Linked DNA regions of Homo sapiens: all the other regions are reported to be linked to region 3. The links are microRNA targets in miRTarBase. Many come from high-throughput screens and were not tested one by one. Region 3 holds a microRNA gene; each other region holds the end of a gene's coding sequence.
The links. The annotated mature microRNA hsa-miR-1976 reads CCUCCUGCCCUCCUUGCUGU and lies in region 3 at 2,450-2,469, opposite strand. An mRNA with a match to its seed (bases 2 to 7 or 8) in the 3' UTR can be bound and repressed. Matches are read on the target gene's strand: a 7mer-m8 pairs with bases 2 to 8, a 7mer-A1 pairs with bases 2 to 7 and ends in A, and an 8mer does both.

Region 1 (4,248 bases), not on the chromosome of region 3:
CCACAGTGACTTTTATGACCTACTTCAAAGTCTCACAGTCTCTTCCATTTTCCTGTATTAAAAGTAAGTCCCTAATTGCTAAAAGAGTACATTTTTAAATGTTCTCACCACAAAGAAATTATAAGAGGTTATGGATATGTTAATTAGCTTGATTTAATAATTCCATAATGTATACATATATAATAATATAATATTGTACCCCATAAATACATACAATTATTATTTGTCAATTAAAAATAAAATAAAAAGACGTAAGTCACTAAGTCCAGCCCATTTTCAGGATGAGGAAGATTAAGCTTCATCTCTTCAAAGGAGAAGAATCAGACTTTATGGATATAAAACTACCACAGAAGTGATGTTAATGTCTCATTTGAATAATTGATTTGAAATTTTTTGCATTTGGTAGAACTCTGTGCTTGCATGTGCTTGTTACTTTTTTGTTCATAAGTTTTAAATAATAACTTTACTATTTCCTGATGTAAAAAGTAACAAATATAAACTATAGAACACTTAATACAGATAGGGAAGTTAGAAAAACATGAATCACTCATAATTCTACAATGCAGATATAGCCATTTTTAACATGTTTTTATTTCTTGTGTGTATATATATGCAAATATTAGTGTTCACACACACAAATACATATATATATACACACACATACATATATAATATATATGCCTTAAGTACATAATAAATATTTTGGAACATGTGTATGTGTATATTCTTATTTAGATATATAAGAATTTACCCCTGTAATTAAAATTACTTGGAAACAGAATTTTAATGGCTACATAACAATATACAAATAAATGTTTATTTCCCTCTTTTTTTTTTTTTAGAGACGGAGTCTTGCTCTGTCGTCCAGGCTGGAGAGCAGTGGCGCCATCTCGGCTCATGCAACCTCCGCCTCCCGGGTTCAAGCGATTCTCCTGCCTCAGCCTCCCGAGTAGCTGGCATTATAGGTGCCTGCCATTGCACCCGGCTCATTTTTTGTATTTTTAGTAGAGGCAGGGTTTCACCATGTTGGCCAGGCTGGTCTCGAAATCCCAACCTCAAGTGATCCACCTACCTTGGCCTCCTAAAGTGCTGGGATTACAGGCGTGAGCCACCGTCCATGGCCTATTTCCCTCTTTCATCTTTTAAAATAATTTTCTGAACATTTAGGCTTTTTATTTCCTTTTGTCACAATAAATAACAATATAAAACATATCTTTGCAGAATGTCTTTGTATCTCTGGTTATTTTCATATGATAGGATCTTACAAGTAGAATTATAGGATAAACAGACTACTAAATTGCCTTCAAGAAAAATTATATCTATTTGTATTTTTACCAGAAGTTTGAGTCCCCATCTCATGGTGATTTATTGAGTATTTAATGTTATCATTTCTTAATCTTTGCTAATAGGCCAAAATGTGTATTTATTTATTTATTTTACTTTGTACTTCGGTGGCATGTCAGTTATTATTTTACTGTCTCTCAGCTCCACATTCACTGTTGGTTGCCCGCTCCGTGAAAATAGATATAGACTCTTGAAATGTTTCCTTTGCAGCTTGCATGATGGCATACTTTGTCAGTAGAGGGCGCTGGAGACACACTGCAAGAGGAAGGGGTCTTTCCTGATTCCTCCAGGCTGACAGGCCAGGCTACTGGAGAGCAGGCTTTTTTCCTTCACTACTTTGCCTGGAGTGGTTTCTGCAGTGCTGGTTGCCTGTAGGGTGCAGCTTTCTCCAGCATTTCTCCACTTGCTTCTCTAGCTTTTGCTTTGGGCAGTGGTGGTATAACCTGGAGCCACAGTGCAAGCCGGTCCTGAAGCTCCAATTGCTGCTCTCCATTTCTTCTCTTCAGCTGGGTGCACACTCATACAGAGGACCCTGCTGGGCTGGCCAACTACTGAGCCACTTGCCTGAGCTTTGTCTTGTGCAGTCTCGTCACACAAAGTTATGCTAGGTTCCTGCAAAGTAGGTCCCTCCGGCTCCTAATCCCAACAGTGCCTCGAACAGAACCCGTGACTCCTTCTTTGTGCTTACCCTTTGGCAAAGCCCCAAGTCCCTCTGCATATCTGCCCACCTGCCTCAGCTGGTCCACACCTAGGGGGTTGGCTGTACCAGCTTGTCCAGTATCTGTGGTCCTGCTCTGGCCTGGGCAAGCCAGCAAACTTCTCTCCAGTGGGCTGCAACCACACCTTCTCCAGTGAATTCTGAAACCCTCATTCCTGCCTTTCCTTGTTAGGATTCTTTCCCTCAGCCTTAGGGTACCTTCTCTTTTCATCTTTATTATTATTCTCCTATCATAGCTTAATTATTATTTATATTAAACTTTCCCTGTTTAAATTACTACCTTGTTTCTGTCTTCTGATTGATACAGACTAACACAGTTGTTCACTGTTAAGATACGACTTTTTTCATATACTTAGTGGCCATTTGCATTCTCTCTTCTGTGATTTTTCTTTTCATATCTACCTTTTTTTTCTATGTAAGACTTGGTTCTTCTCTTATACATTTCAGTCTATTGAAGACTAACCTTTTGTCATGTTCATGGCAGGTACATGACACTAGTTTTTTATAAGTATGTTGAATTTTAACTATTACATTTGCCTCATTTAAGTGAGATGAGACTATTTTCTTATTAATATTGACAGGTGAAAGAATAGCGATGCAAGCCTCTGGTTTACTCAGTAAGAGAGACTTCTTAGGCTTGAAAAGGCCATAGCACACTTTCACCTTCAACCAGTTTAGGTTTGGTAATACTGAGAAGTAATGCCTTTGTCTTAAAAATGTTTCATATTTTAATATTGTTAATCTTCCAGTTGGGTTTACTGCATATAATCTCATTCCTTAGTACATGTAATATGATCAATTTACTACAATGCTTATGAGGAATGCAAATGGAATTAGTTTACAGAATGAAAGAATGTTGCATATAATTCCATTTTAATACAGAATTTATAAATAAAATCATAGTTTATACTTATAGCATTTCTTCATTTTTAGTGTTTTTTTTTCAAGTGGGTTAAACAGATCTGTGAGTACCTTGAGAGTTGTCATGTAGAATAAGATGCTAAGAGGGCAGAGTTTGGGATTCCCTATGTAACTTCAGCTACAACAGCCTTGCTTTATCCATTGTATTCATTCAGCAACAAATAGGTATTTGTGGGCCAAGTCTTACTTTAGCCGATGTAATATGTCTATGTGATATAAACATTTTTTTGAAAAATAAATAAAGAAAAAGTTCAATTAACTTAAAAAAGAGCTTAAGAAAAGCTTTGAACTGATGAAAGGTCTTTCATCAGCAGAAGAGAGAGAATAAAAGGGCTGGGGGGAGGTTCAGAAAATTTCAATTAGGATTTCTTAACAGAGTCCATAATTTTTCCTTTCCAAAGGCCAGACAGCTCTGATGTTACAGATAGTCAGAAGTCAACAGGCCATTTAAGATAGTCCTAGATTTTATGAAAATGCCAGAGTTTTCAAGAAGCTACTGTCACTATCAGGTAGATTCCTTGATGGTGTAAGACTGTATTTCTTTTTCATTCCAAGAACTGGCAGCTTCTTTTTTCTGAGTCATTTCTGAATCCATTGATTATGTTTCAGTTCTCTTGAGAGTCCAAGCTAAATGAAGTTTAAACTGCTTATCTGAAGACACCATTTAAATTTGAGTTCATTACATGGTTTACTATAAAAGCTATTTGGCATATGCAGTATTCAAGCTTATTTCAGTTACTGAAACTAAACTCAAACTCATTTTGTCCAACTGTGAACCCTAATTAACCTCATCACTTCAAAAAGAAATGAGCTTTTTTTGACATTCAATTTTCTACGATTCAAGTCTCATATATGTTCGTATAAATGCAAGTACAGAACTTATGCATTCATCAAAGAGTAATATCTCTGAGTTTTTTGAAATGTTTTAGCAATAGAAGCTTGTACTGCTAAACTGTTGTCTCTGTTTTTATTACTAGTTTATTTTGAAGACATTTCAGTATAATCGCCTTTTCTTTATTGAATCTGAAAATGAGAAGAAGAAAGACTATTAAAAATTGGACATATTTTGTGCATTGGACATATTAAAGAACGGAGTATCCAATGTGCATGCTCTTGACTTACTTTGTTACTATTCTTTGAATCTCTCTTTTCTCTTCTTCATTTAATCTTTGAAGAATGGATTCCAAGAGAGAAAAGTGAAAGTTAATGTACTGAGCCACCTAAGAAAGAAGAAGAAGAAAAAAAAAAGAAAGCAGAACAATTAT
Region 2 (4,248 bases), not on the chromosome of region 3:
GAACCTAGGCTCACTGGCGCAGGATTTGAGGGATGGCCTGCAGGTGTCTTTAGTCTGTTACAAACATTGAACTTTGTTGAAGAGGCGGCTTTGAGATCACATTTCTCAAAATAAGTGGCCTTCAGACATTGTGTGAACATGGCCGACTGTAGTCTCCCATTAACCCACCCCCGCTACCAAAGGAACGGAAATCGAATAAAAGCCCAAACCTGACTGGATCACTAAGCTGCTAGTTGCTCCTTTTCTAAGAGCAGATGTATGTGGCTTGTGGCACCAAAATGATCATGCCTCTCAAGGTTGTTTTTTTTTTTTTTTTTTTTTTTTTGAGACGGAGTCTCGCTCTGTCGCCCAGGCCGGACTGTGGACTGCAGTGGCACAATCTCGGCTCACTGCAAGCTCCGCTTCCTGGGTTCACGCCATTCTCCTGCCTCAGCCTCCTGAGTAGCTGGGACTACAGGCGCCCGCCACCGCGCCCGGCTAATTTTTTGTATTTTTAGTAGAGACGGGGTTTCACCTTGTTAGCCAGGATGGTCTCGATCTCCTGACCTCATGATCCACCCGCCTCGGCCTCCCAAAGTGCTGGGATTACAGGCGTGAGCCACCGCGCCCGGCCATCTCTCAAGGTTTTACTTTTTGAGATGGAGTCTCGCTCTGTCGCCCAGCCTGGAGTGTAGTGGCTTAATCTCGGCTCACTGCAACCTCTGCCTCCTGGATTCAAGCGATTCTCCTGCCTCAGCCTCCCAAGTAGCCGGGACTACAGGCATGTGCCACCACGCCTGGCAGATTTTTGTATTGTTAGTAGAGACAGGGTTTCACCGTGTTGGCCAGGCTGGTCTTGAACTCCTGAACTCAGGTGATCCACCCGCCTCCGCCTCCCACAGTGCTGGGATTACAGGCGTGAGCCACCACACACCCTGCCTTGCCTTTCAAGGTTAACTGATGAGTCCTTTCAACTGTTTTATTCTTCCCGTTTTCTTTGAATGTTACATGTAGTGATTAAATAACTATGGCCATTCCATGAACGGGTACGTGCAGCTGGTTCTTGGGGCTCTCCAGGCCAGTGGGCTGTAGCTGGGTGGTGGGGTGGGGGGCTGTTTTCTGTCACTCGCCAGAGGTCCCCATGTGACTCATGGCCACTGGTTGGTTATTGAATGCAAGGGTGGCAGGGGTGAGGGTTCTGGCTGCCCGGGTCCTTACGGTGCCACCCTCTCTGCCCGTCTCTGCTGCAGGGTTGGGGTGCTGGAGGACTGCTTCACCTTCCTGGGCATCTTCCTGGCCATCATCCTCTTCCCCTTTGGGTTCATTTGCTGTTTTGCCTTGAGGAAGCGACGATGCCCCAACTGTGGAGCCACCTTCGCTTAAAGGGAACACCAGGCCCGGCTTTCCTACACCCAGCTCTCTTTTTCTAATGTAAATGTTGTGTACAATAATTTTATTTGATTAAGCTTCAGGACTGTTTTGTAAAGCGAGGTGGGACCGATGTGGCACACGCCAGCTGCGGTTTCCCGGAGCGTGGAGAGGCAGTGCTGCTGCTCCCGCCCGAGGCTCATGACAACTCAATAAAGCACTGCTTTTATTTTTTGCAGTCTTCAATTTGAGAAAGGTGAGAAATAATGTTTTCAATAAATGAGATTCATACCATTGTTGACCTGGTGCTGCTTACTCGGTGCTTTCAGAGACCCAGGAAAGACTGGAACGACACCCCCATCGCTCCCCCGGCCAGTCCTGACCACAGTTGTATTCAGCAGGCGCTTACAGCTCAAGAAAATGTTTTCAAGTTCTGCTTTATTATTAAAGTTGTAATCCCTTGATATTTACAGAGCAGGCACCTCGGTGCCAAGGACCAGGCCATGCCCGTTCTGGTCTGGGAGGCAGAACCTGGGGTTGGGTGAGCCACGGGGTCTGCAGGTTGCATCCGAGACCCCCAGGTCCTATTCTTCCACCCCGTAACAAAACCAGAAACCTCCCCAAGGCAGAACGCCAAAGGCCAGGTGTCACCCACACCCCAGCAGTTCCCCTTAGCGCCAGATGGGGCTCCCTGAGCCCTGTGGCTGAAGTGGGGAACACGGCCATGGGGCTTGTGTGGACTGAATTCTCATGTGGCTGCAGCCCTTTCTGTAGTACAGACTGGGGTTGTTAACATAGTTCATGGTGCCTGCAGCCCCTTCATGGTGGGGGTGCCTGGTTTGTCCTCCCAGGAGAAGCAGATGGTAACACTGCTGGACCTGGCTGGAAGGAGCCTGAAGCATCGGCCACGTCCACTGGCTTACCTGCATGTAACCTTTCCCAATCTCAGCCTCATAGGATACTACACTTATGGCAAGGCTAAAGGAGAGGGGATAAGTCACAGCCCCAGCACCCAGCAACACACACGGTGAGCGGCCGGGCTGGAGTGCAGCAGCATGATCTGGCTCACTGCAACCTCTGCCTCCCGGGTTCAAGTGATTCTCCTGCCTCAGCCTCCTGAGTGGCGCCCACCACCACACCTGTCTAATTTTTGTATTTTTAGTAGAGACTCCTGACCTCAGGTGATCCCCCTGCCTCGGCCTCACAAAATGCTGGGATTCCCGTACCTGGGCCGGGCTGGGAATTTTAACCATGACTCTCCACTCCAAAATAGGTCCAGATCCTTGGCAGCCAAAGATGATTTCCAGCCCCGGGCTCAGGGCAGCCAGTGCGTAGTCCTCACATCCATACCATAGGGCCAGGTTCCGAGGGCATCATGGCTGCTAGGCTGAAAAACCCGCCCTTCTCCAGGCACCAGAGGTCATCCTGGCTTTACACGTATCCTTTGAGAGTCTGTACCTGATTCAAACACGGAGAAACCAGGACCCCGAGCAGTTTGAGTGTACTGGTAATGGATGCAGCTTTGGCCAACTAGCTGAGTGAGAACACAAGGAGCCGTGACTCCGACGCCCAGGCCTGTGTCCTGGATGGGCCGTGTGCAGCGAATCCGTTGGCGACTCCTAACTACCAAGAAAAGGAGCTCTCGGAGGAGATTTCGTCGAGTGCTACGTGTGGCTGTGATAAGGGCAGGCAAAGCGTCTTAGCACTCTACAGCTCTGGCGTGGTTGGAGGGAGGGTGGGGGTTTCTCCATCTCTGGAAGCTCTACACTTAAACATTTTAAGTTAAATTACATTTATATAGTATTTTCATAATTTATATTGCTTAAAATTATGATTTGCATGCTAAGATGCAAACTTACGTGATATCTTCTTTAGACATAATGCTATTAAGAGCACATGCTTTATAAAATAAAACTGGTCTCATTCATATCAGGTGCAGAAAGCCAGTCCTGAAAGCATAGACTATCCCTTATTCTGGCTGTTATTAAGGAAAAAATTCATTTAAAAAATACAGTAAAGATTGAAACCAAGTTTACTGTTTCTTGAACAGAATAGGAAGAAAATATTTTAAATGGCTGAGCTGGTCATTAGACTATTACTCATTTATCTTAAAGGCAGAAACTTGTCAACCCAACTACGTGAAACAGAGAAGCATGATTTGCTTAAGCAGGCGACATTAGAGTTAGGCCTCTCCACTGAAGCTTCCCGACCGTCAGCACGTGGCAGACAGGATGCGCCCATCATTCCGCAAGGGAGAACCGGAGAGGCCCGGGAGAGTCCTTGGCTGTCCTCTCATCGAATGATGGGTGCCGAGCGATCATTCGTCACAGTCGGGCGGAGTTTCACAGTGGCAAAGGGGTTTTCTCCGCTGCAGGGGATAAGAAAAATCTTTCAGAACTTCTGCTCTACGAGGGAAACTGGATTTTAACAGTGCTAATAACCCGTTCTTGCCCTGTGAGACTGGGCGGCTGACCACCTCCCCAGCTTGTACAGGTCCCAGCAGCGTTTTCTGAGTGTGAAAGTTTTGTTCAGTGATGATTCCTACACCATACCACCTGCTGCAGAACGATCCCAGGTTTTAAGCGTTCTGGACGTGGGCACCCACACCTCTTTAGTCCTGCATTGTGTGTGACATGGGGGTCACTCTGGGGTGGGGAAGCCCTGCTCCCAGCGTGGTCTAAAGTAGTTGGTAAAGCGAGCAGGGGGCTGCACTCCCCCATGGCTCCACAGGCCGAGGCCTTTCTCAGGCTGGACCCCCTGGGCTGGGCACCGAAGGCCCTTCCGGGGGACACTACAGGGAAGAGCAATGTCACACACTGAGGCTCACGTAGGAAGCCACGCCTACCTGAGAAAAGGCGGCTTTGCAGTCCCGTTGGCATCGTTCTGTGAGAAAGATAAAGA
Region 3 (4,436 bases):
CACTGCTGGCTTGAAGGGTGGCTTGATCTCACGACGGTATAGCTTCTGCACAGTGGGGTGGGCACTCTGGTCACCATGGCATCCTCAACAGCCCACCAGGAGCCCCATGCAGGAGGAGGTGCTGGGCTTGGAACATAGGCCATATTGCCCAGCTCTCGGAATTGCTTGCCCTCAGGAGGCCAGCCCTTGTCTTCAAGGGCAGGCTGTGACCCTCTGCTCCTGCGTCTGGGGCCCTCGCTGGCAGAGGCTCCCCTCCCACCACCCTTCCTGTGGCCAAGATGGCTGAGCCCTGGCCAGAGCCCTGGTGTGGGTGGACACACTCACATTCCAGTCAATGGTGGAGTAGAAGACATGCCGCTTGATTTCCTCTGCCCCATCAGGGCCGGAGCCTGAAAGAGCCCAAATGAAGGGTCTGTCCCTGGCTGGCACAAGTCCCAGATATTACCCTGCCCACCAAGCAGCCTCACAGGGCTCTGGGACCAGCTGCTGGAGCAGAGGGGAAAATGGGCTCACTCAGCCTCAAATCTACCCAGCCATCACCCTAAGGCCTGTCACCTACTCAGCATTTTCCACTTTCTGGAGCTTCTGATGAAGAAATTCCAATGTACCAGTGGGAGGAGGAAGGCCCAGAGACTTTAGGCAACTTCTCCAAGGCCACACAGTTAGAACAGAAGCTGAGCTTGTTCTGAGACCTACAGAGAGCCCCACCTCATTCCAAGGCAAGCCTCATCTCTGTTCCTCTTATCCCATTGACCTTTTCAACCATAGGACAGGCTGTTACTCCATTCGACCCCAGGGGCCTTGACTGGACCTTACACAGCTGGTCATGGACCAGATGAACCCAGGAGCCAGGGAAGCCAGCACACACTGGACACCTACTACATGCCGGCATGTTCACACAACCTCATTTCATCAACAGAGCCCTGAAGCAAGCTTGGGATCATCATCTCCCATTGAGACGAGGAACCTGCGGTGCAGAGAGGTGAAGTCACCTGCCTGGGGTCACTTAGTTCATAAGTGGCCTCATTCGTTTAACAAATATTTATAGAGGGACTGTTTTGTGCCAGGCAGTGGGGACCTGACACAGAGCCGGGATTGGGACCTATGCCTTCTGACTCCTGAGCTCATGCTATTTCTCTTGTGCCAGCAGCCTTGGCGGAGAAGCTGTGTGGGGGCCTCTGTCCTTGTCCCCAGAGGGAGTAGGGATGACTCAGTTCCTGCCTTCCCCCTACACACAGGTCAACTCCCCCCTCCACAACACCACACATGGAGCCAGAAAGCAGGGTGGCCCGCGGCATTGTCTGCCCACACAAAGGACAACGGCCCCTTTCAGCCCAGATGTGGCCCTGTGGCCTAGGCTGCAGCTGTACCCGGCTCCCCATCGCCACATCCCCTCCCCTGAGCTGGGGCTGCTTACCGAGCCGGTTGGCAGGATTCCGCTTGAACAGGGCCCGCAAGAGGCTCTGGGCTTCAGTGCTCAGAAACTGGGGCATGCCTAGCTTCGCCCTGAAACAGCCCCCGGGACTCATCAAGGCTGAGCCCTGCCCCAGAGGCCCCATCTCCCCCGGCCCCTGTCCAGATCTAGTTCCCAGCTCAGTCTAGACAAGCCATCCACTAATTCACTTCCCAAAGGCTTCAGGGATCCTACCCACAGGCCCCCAGGGATGAAAGAGGGGCTCTGGAAGGTATAATGTTTAACCCAGAGGAGAGTCTCATTAGAGAGGGTAGCTGAGGCAGGGACAGGGTAATAATATTCTGACCCCCAAACTGGGGCTGGGGCTTGGAGGAGTCCATTGTTATCAGGGCAGGGCTGGGGCTTACTTCAGAATCAGTGTCATGGTCTCCTTCCGGTCCTTCCCCTGGAAGGGCAGGGAGCCCGTCAGCATCTCAAACTGCAGAGGACAAGGATCTATTCAGGCTCTGATCCCTGTCTCCGACACACCTCCCGCCTCCTCCCAGTCAGACCCCTCTGCCCCAGTCCCAGGATTCTTGCTGATACATCCAAGTCAGCCTGGAGCAAGAATTATGCCCGTCCCTCTTGCCTCTGCCAACCAGACCACCAGGAGCAGCGGTGGGGGCGCGAGGCTGGGGAGAAGGCCAGCACTGGGTTAGGCGCGTCCCAGGTGGGGTCAAGCCTGGGATCCTTCCAAGGAAGAAAACTGCAGGTGCATATAGGGTGAGGCCAGCTTGGCTGTGAGAGGAGACGGGGAGAGCCCTAGAAATGATCAACCCCCTCACTGTACAGATAGGGAGACTGAGGCCAGAGGCTTGGGCTGGATCCTTTACCCCTGTCTGGGCACTCACCATCAACACCCCATAGGACCACCAGTCCGCACTATGGGAGTGGCCCTGGCGGTTGACGACCTCAGGGGCCATGTACTCCACTGTCCCGCAGAAAGAATAGGCCTTCTTCTCGTGGTCAATGGCCTCTTTGCTCAGGCCAAAGTCTACAGCAAGGAGGGCAGGAGGACACACCTTAGGACCCCTGCCTTCCTTGCTGCCACCCTTTGCACACCCAACCCCCGTGCCCAGAGGCCAGAAGGCATCACCCCCATGACACTCAGGAGGAAGCTAAGGCCCAGAGAGGTCAGGTGACTTGCTCAACGTTACACAATGAGGGGCTGGGATTCCAGCTGAGGGTGTTCCAAGTCTGAGGCCTGAGTTTTTGACCACTTCCAAGTAACTGGCACGGCTTCTCGGGAAGAATGAGCCCCCAGCACTCAGCCGAGACCTATCATGACCTTGTCCTGTCCTCCCCTGGGTCCCGAGGGGGCAGGCGCCCTCCACTCACCAGTGAGTTTGATGTGGCCCTCCTCATCCAGAAGGATGCTGTAATAGAGAAATAGTGGTCAGGGCCCCTCAGCTGTGGCCGTGTGGGTGATGGTGTTACCACAGGGCTGTGGGAGTTGGGTTCAGCCCAGAGGAGGTGCTCCACCCAATTCTCTCTGATGACTGGGCGGGTGTTGCAGGGTGGTAGCAGTACCACGCAGGGGTGTTGCCTATCTTTTTTGCTAATCCTTGAAGCAACTGTGTGAGGCAAGTACTATTAGGGCCCCGTTTTGCTAATGGGAAAACTAAGGCTCAGGGCAGTTAAGTAGCTCTACAGTCATTGAGCTAGTAAGTCTAGCTAGTAGGTGGAGACAGGATTTGAATACAGGGCTGCCTAACACTAAAGCCAGATCTTATTCCAACTCACCACCTGCCCCTGGCTCCTTAGTTATCATTTGAGGGTAGTTAGATATTAGGGAAAATTCTATAGGGCTTTATCAAGGAAAGACCTCTAAAGGTGGCATCTCAAATGTCACACTAGATTAGCAAAAAAAGACGGGCAACATTACCTGCATGCAAAGTACCTGGCCCTTGGTAATGGTAGCATTAGTGACTGGGCAGCTGGCACTACCACCCACCCCACTCACCCATCCCTCAGATTGCCCAAGAGAGGGAGACGTTTCTGGAGAAAGCCATGCCCACCCACCTCAGGATGGCCCTGTCCTAGAAGAGGCCTCCCCTGGGGAGGCTGGGGTGGGGCTGGAGGCTTCACTCACTTCTCAGGCTTGAGGTCTCTGTAAATGATACCCAGGCTGTGCAGGTGATCCAGGCCCAGAGCCAGCTCAGCCAGGTAAAACTTCACATCCTCCTCCGTGAACATCACCTGCAAAAGACAGGAGGGGCCTTCAGCAGGGACCTCCTCTTCCTTAAGAGCTGGGGCACTGGGCAGTCAGCAGCTTCCTGGTCCTGAAGAGCCACCCTGGGAGGACCCTTGGAAACCCCAGGCCATATAGCCTTCTCATCATACAAAGGATTTGAAGTATGAAATGACTAATACGCAAGCCACTCATTGTGGCACCATTCAGAAATAGAAGGGGTGGGAAACAGGCCTAGGGTCCAAGAGTAGAAGGCTGGAATCAGCCCTCTCCCCTGCATAATGGAGTGCTTTGCAGCCATGAACTGGAACAAGGAGTTTCTCCGTGTTCTGACATGGAGTGAGCTCCAAGATATACTATCTTGAAAAAAGCAAGGTACAGAACAGTGTATACAGAATAGTACTTTTTACATAAGGAAATGGGGGTAGGAATGAACATATATCGGATTTGTTTGCAAAAGAAACATGGGAAAGTTAAACAAGAAACCAATAAAAATGTTTACCTATAGATGGGAATAGAGGGGGCTGGGGTGGGAGGAAGACTTCTTCATGAATATTTTTCTTTTGAATCATGTATATTACCTATTCAAACATTAAAATCACAATTTAAGCCGGGCACGGTGGCTCACACCTATAATCCCAGCCAGCAGTTTGGGAGGCTGAGGCAGGCGGATCACCCGAGGTCAGGAGTTCGAGACCAGCCTGGCCAACATGGAGAAACCCTGTCTCTACCAAAAATACAAAAATTAACCAGGCGTGGTGGCGTGCACCTGTCATCCCAGCTACTCGGGAG
Region 4 (4,248 bases), not on the chromosome of region 3:
ATTTAATAATGTCCTAAGAAGGCAGCCAGTAGAACCTTGGCTACTGTTTTTCAAAAGTGGCTCTGCATTGCTCCTACATAACCCCGTACATTACTCCACAGTCCTGTTAGAGCCCTGAAAGGGAAACTGCTAAAAATAAGGTTCTTCATTTAGGTGACTAGGAACTCCCAATATTTTTGCCCTAGGGAATACTGGGAGACAAATCTCTACGATCACAAATTACTAATGGTTTCCCCAGAACTGCTGGTGGCCATATCCCCTGGCATGTGGAAGGGCCCAGAAGAGGCCACTCTACTGCAGAGGCCAACAGAAGGTATGATTGGTGGAGGGATGGGGGGGTGGTTGGAGGGGCAAATGGAAGGGAGCTTGAGTCACTAGATCCAATCAAGCCCATAGTCATGGCCACCACTGTCCTCAAGTTCTATGAGCCAGCTTTTTTTTTTTTTTCCTTAAGCTAATTTGAGCTGTGCTTCTACCACAGCTAAGATTCATGCCTAATATATCTTTTCCCTAGATTACTCCCTATGTACCATAAAAATCTGGTGTGTAAATACACATGAAGGGCATCCCTCATCCTTATTTGCTATATTAAAAATATTAACTAACTCTTAGCTTGCTGCGGATGCCAGGAATGCAGTAATGAATTTGGAAAACTATCCAAACAAACAGGGGAATCTTCATTCGCAAAGAATATGGGAGGGAGAACAGCAGATTTTTAATTTGGATAGTAAGACGAGCAGCCCTTAAAGAACCAGGTAAAAGAAGTTGGTTTATTTAGGCTTGTTAGTGGGCAAGGTTGAGACACTGGCCAAGATACTTTTTTTTTTGGGGGGGGGGGGGGTGGTGATTGATTGATAGGGTCTCACTCTATTGCCCAGGCTGGAGTGCAGTGGAGCAATCATAGCCACGACCTCCCAGGCTCAAGTGATCCTCCCACCTCAGCCTCCTGAACAGCTGGGACCACAGGTGCACACCTGGCTGATTTATTTTATTTATTTATTTATTTATTTTTTTTTTTGTAGAGTGTTGCCCAGGCTGGTCTCAAACTTCTGGGCTCAAGCAACCCTCCAGCCTCGGCCTCCCAAAGTGTTGGGATCATAGGCATGAGACACCGTGCCTGGCGAAGATATTTTTACCGAAAAGGACAGAGGGTGTACTTGGAGGTAAGGGACCCAATTCCATTAGTCTAGCCACAATAATGTGTTTGTTTCCTCATAACCACAGTCTTGGTTGGGCTGCTGTAACTAAATATCAACTGGGTGGCTTATAAACAATAGAAATTTCTCACAGTTCTGGCTGGAAAGTCTAGGTTCAAGGCACTGGCAGATTCAGTATCTGGTGAGAACCCACTTTCTGGTTCACGGATGGTGACTTCTTGCTGTGTTCTCCCATGGCAGAAGAAATGAGGGGGTCTCTATCTTATCTTGAGTCTCTTTTAAAAGGCACTACCCTCATGATCTAATCACCTTCCAAAGGCCCCAGCTTCTATTACCATTACCTGGGGGGTTAAGGTTTCACCACCTGAATTTTGGGGAGGATACAAAAATACAGACCACAGGAGCCACTGAATGCGGGGAGCGAGACAGCTCCCCAGCTGCTCAGTAATGGAGAGCTGAGAGGGTGGAGGTCTGTTTTCTCAGCCATTCTTAGTGTTTTTATTCTAGGACTGATCTTAACTTGAGGATCACAGGTTTTTTTGTACAATGGAGTTCTGTTTGTTTGTAATTTTTTTTTTTTTTTGAGACGGAGCTTTGCTCTTGTAGCCCAGGCGGGCGTGCAATGGCACGATCTCGGCTCACTGCAGCCTCTGCATCCCGGGTTTAAGCAATTCTCCTGCCTCAGCCTCCTGTGTAGCTGGGATTACAGGCACACAATACCACACCTGGCTAATTTTTTGTATTTTTAGTAGAGACGGGGTTTCACCATGTTGGCCAGGCTGGTCTAGAACTCCTGACCTCAGGTGATCTACCCACCTCGGCCTCCCAAAGTGATGGAATTATAGGCATGAGCCACTGCGCCTGGCTGTTTGTTTGTAATTTATTTTTTAAATGAATATAAATAAGATCCCCAGGACCGCAAGTGCAGGGATGCTAAATAACCTGTCTTGATCCCTCATCTGGTGAGAAGTAGAAAGAGGATTAGATTCCAGATGTTCTGATGACCAGGCCATATCCCCTGAGTGCTAAGGTTGACATTAAAAATTCATTACAAAGATCCTGCCCTCCTGTCCTTGGACATCACAGCTCCTGCTTGTTCCTGGGCATTCAGACTCTGGGACTTATACCAGCATTCCCCATGCCCCTCCCCAGGTTCTTAGGCATTTGGACTTGAACCAAGTTGTTATACCACCAGCTTTCCTGGGTCTCCATAAGAGTGGGACCCTGATCCAATACAATTAGTGTTGCTGTAAGAAGAGACATGAGAGCCTATTTTCTCTCTCCCCCACCAGGCACATACCAAAGAAATGCCATGTGAGAACAAGCAAGAAGGTGGCCATCTGTAAACCAGGAAGAGTGTCCTCACCAGAAAATGAAGTGGCTTCAACTTTGATCTCAGAATTCCAGCCTCCATAACTGTGAGAAAATACATTTCTGTTCTTTCAGCCAGTCTATGGCATTACATTATAGCAACCCAAGCAAACTAAGGCATGCCCAGAAATGACTACAGGGGTAAAAATGAGCAGATAATTGGTTTTTAGTGTCCTGAAGTTTATCTGCTTTTCCTTATGTACTTATATCGTTGCCACTGCCACCAGGCTACTCTTCCTTCTTGTCTGCTCCCAAACAGGGAAGAGCGAGCATAATGGTTCCTAAACATTTCCGTTATACCCGTACAGTTCTGATAGAGTTGTAAAAATGGGAGAATATGAAGGTTATTCAGGCTTCCCAATGATATGGTGTGAGATTCACTCTGTACTAAATATCCCAAAACTCTAGCCACAAACACAGCAAAACTCAAAGTCAACAAGTTTTCACTGAAAATAGATTTCATTTCATTCAAATTAGAAATGTGTTCTCCCAAACCGCCTCCCAACAAAGGTCTCTGCTTGATAAATGAAAAGATAGTAAAAGAAAACTTCACATTTCTTTTTATGTGGATCTATCAAAAGGTACATAATCAAAACAACTTTAACACCCGACCTATCCATGAGGAGTCTGGATGATTCACTCTGAAGGAAAAGGGGAGAGAAGAGAGAATCACTGCTCTGATTTGAAGTGTGCAAAGTTCTTATCTATGTCACTTAACACTGGTATAATTAATACAGAAAGGAAAATGACCCTCAAGAGGAAGGTTTCATTGAGCAGAGCGTAAGAGGAACAATAAGAGGGTAGGAGACACCTCCTGAGAAGGTTTGCTTGTGTTCAGCTGAAGATTAATAGGAAACAGTGAAAAAGCAACGTCCTGTGATCAGTAACTTTAAAGACAAGCTTGGTTCTCTCTTTCTGGCACTACTGACATTCCCACCATTCTAGCTTCCAAATTCTGGAAAAAGAGAAGATGATTAACAAAAATAGAGAATGTAGAAACTTCTGGTTTTGTGCCTACAGGATTGGCACCAGACCCTCAGTGCTCACTTGCTCCATCTACAAGGCAGCACCCCTCCCAGAGGCAGCCAGGGAGGCCTCTCCACCAGGGCCTGCGCTGGCTGGTGGTGCGGCTTCCTCCCTGGGCGCAGCACCAAGTGCACGTCTCCTACTTGGCCATCTTGCGGATCATGTAGTTGAGGATGCCCCCGTTGAGGAAATAAGTGAGCTCCACATCAGTGTCAAACCTCATGACAGCCTGGAAGGTCTTGCCAGTATCCAGCTGTGGCACAAAGAAACAGAAGCATCATTGAGGGAGGTGGCGAGACAGCTCTGCTCGGAGGAAATTCTGCCCAGCCTGCCCCTCAGGTGTGGTCCACACTTCAGTAACACCAGCAGCACATGAGGACATGCAAGGCTGCTGGCCCCAGCCCAGACCCACTAAATCAGAAGATGCATTTCAGCAAGATCTCTGGGAGGCTGCTTTGCCCATTACAGTTTGAGAATCACTGCAGACTGTAAATGATGGGGGTGAGAGCCATCTAAGAACTAGAAATAGCTTCTCAGGGCAGTAGCTATTAATGACATCAGGGTGGTATTTTCTAAACCTCTGGGGGCTCCCTGTGGACAGAAGTATTCAATCAGCAGAGATTTCATTAAGGTTGTCCCTTAGGCAGCTGGCCCATCTGCTTATCTGAGACACAGACTTTTGCACTGCCTCTGT

Region 1: the mRNA of RASSF6 is a reported target of hsa-miR-1976. Seed matches in the 3' UTR shown: 8mer at 929-936.
Region 2: the mRNA of BAIAP2L1 is a reported target of hsa-miR-1976. Seed matches in the 3' UTR shown: 8mer at 2,447-2,454.
Region 4: the mRNA of ACO1 is a reported target of hsa-miR-1976. Seed matches in the 3' UTR shown: 7mer-m8 at 2,244-2,250 and 8mer at 1,830-1,837.

What each region holds. Positions count from the first base shown.
Region 1 is chr4:73,572,305-73,576,552 of GRCh38, forward strand. It overlaps RASSF6 (Ras association domain family member 6), which reads right to left. Exons shown (of 11, transcript NM_177532.5): 10 at 4,106-4,203; 11 at 1-4,006. The coding sequence ends at 3,931. Among named protein-coding and RNA genes, the nearest start is that of RASSF6, 46 kb to the right of the region's middle.
Region 2 is chr7:98,289,882-98,294,129 of GRCh38, forward strand. It overlaps BAIAP2L1 (BAR/IMD domain containing adaptor protein 2 like 1), which reads right to left. Exons shown (of 14, transcript NM_018842.5): 13 at 4,193-4,230; 14 at 1,769-3,715. The coding sequence ends at 3,640. BRI3 (brain protein I3) reads left to right here. Exons shown (of 3, transcript NM_015379.5): 3 at 1,230-1,664. The coding sequence ends at 1,362. Among named protein-coding and RNA genes, the nearest start is that of BRI3, 10 kb to the left of the region's middle.
Region 3 is chr1:26,552,607-26,557,042 of GRCh38, reverse strand. It overlaps MIR1976 (microRNA 1976), which reads right to left and starts at 2,501; the gene lies at 2,450-2,501. RPS6KA1 (ribosomal protein S6 kinase A1) reads right to left here. Exons shown (of 22, transcript NM_002953.4): 7 at 3,546-3,652; 8 at 2,792-2,829; 9 at 2,305-2,447; 10 at 1,822-1,892; 11 at 1,418-1,506; 12 at 325-389; 13 at 1-45.
Region 4 is chr9:32,449,557-32,453,804 of GRCh38, reverse strand. ACO1 (aconitase 1) reads right to left here. Exons shown (of 21, transcript NM_002197.3): 21 at 1-3,807. The coding sequence ends at 3,694. Among named protein-coding and RNA genes, the nearest start is that of ACO1, 67 kb to the right of the region's middle.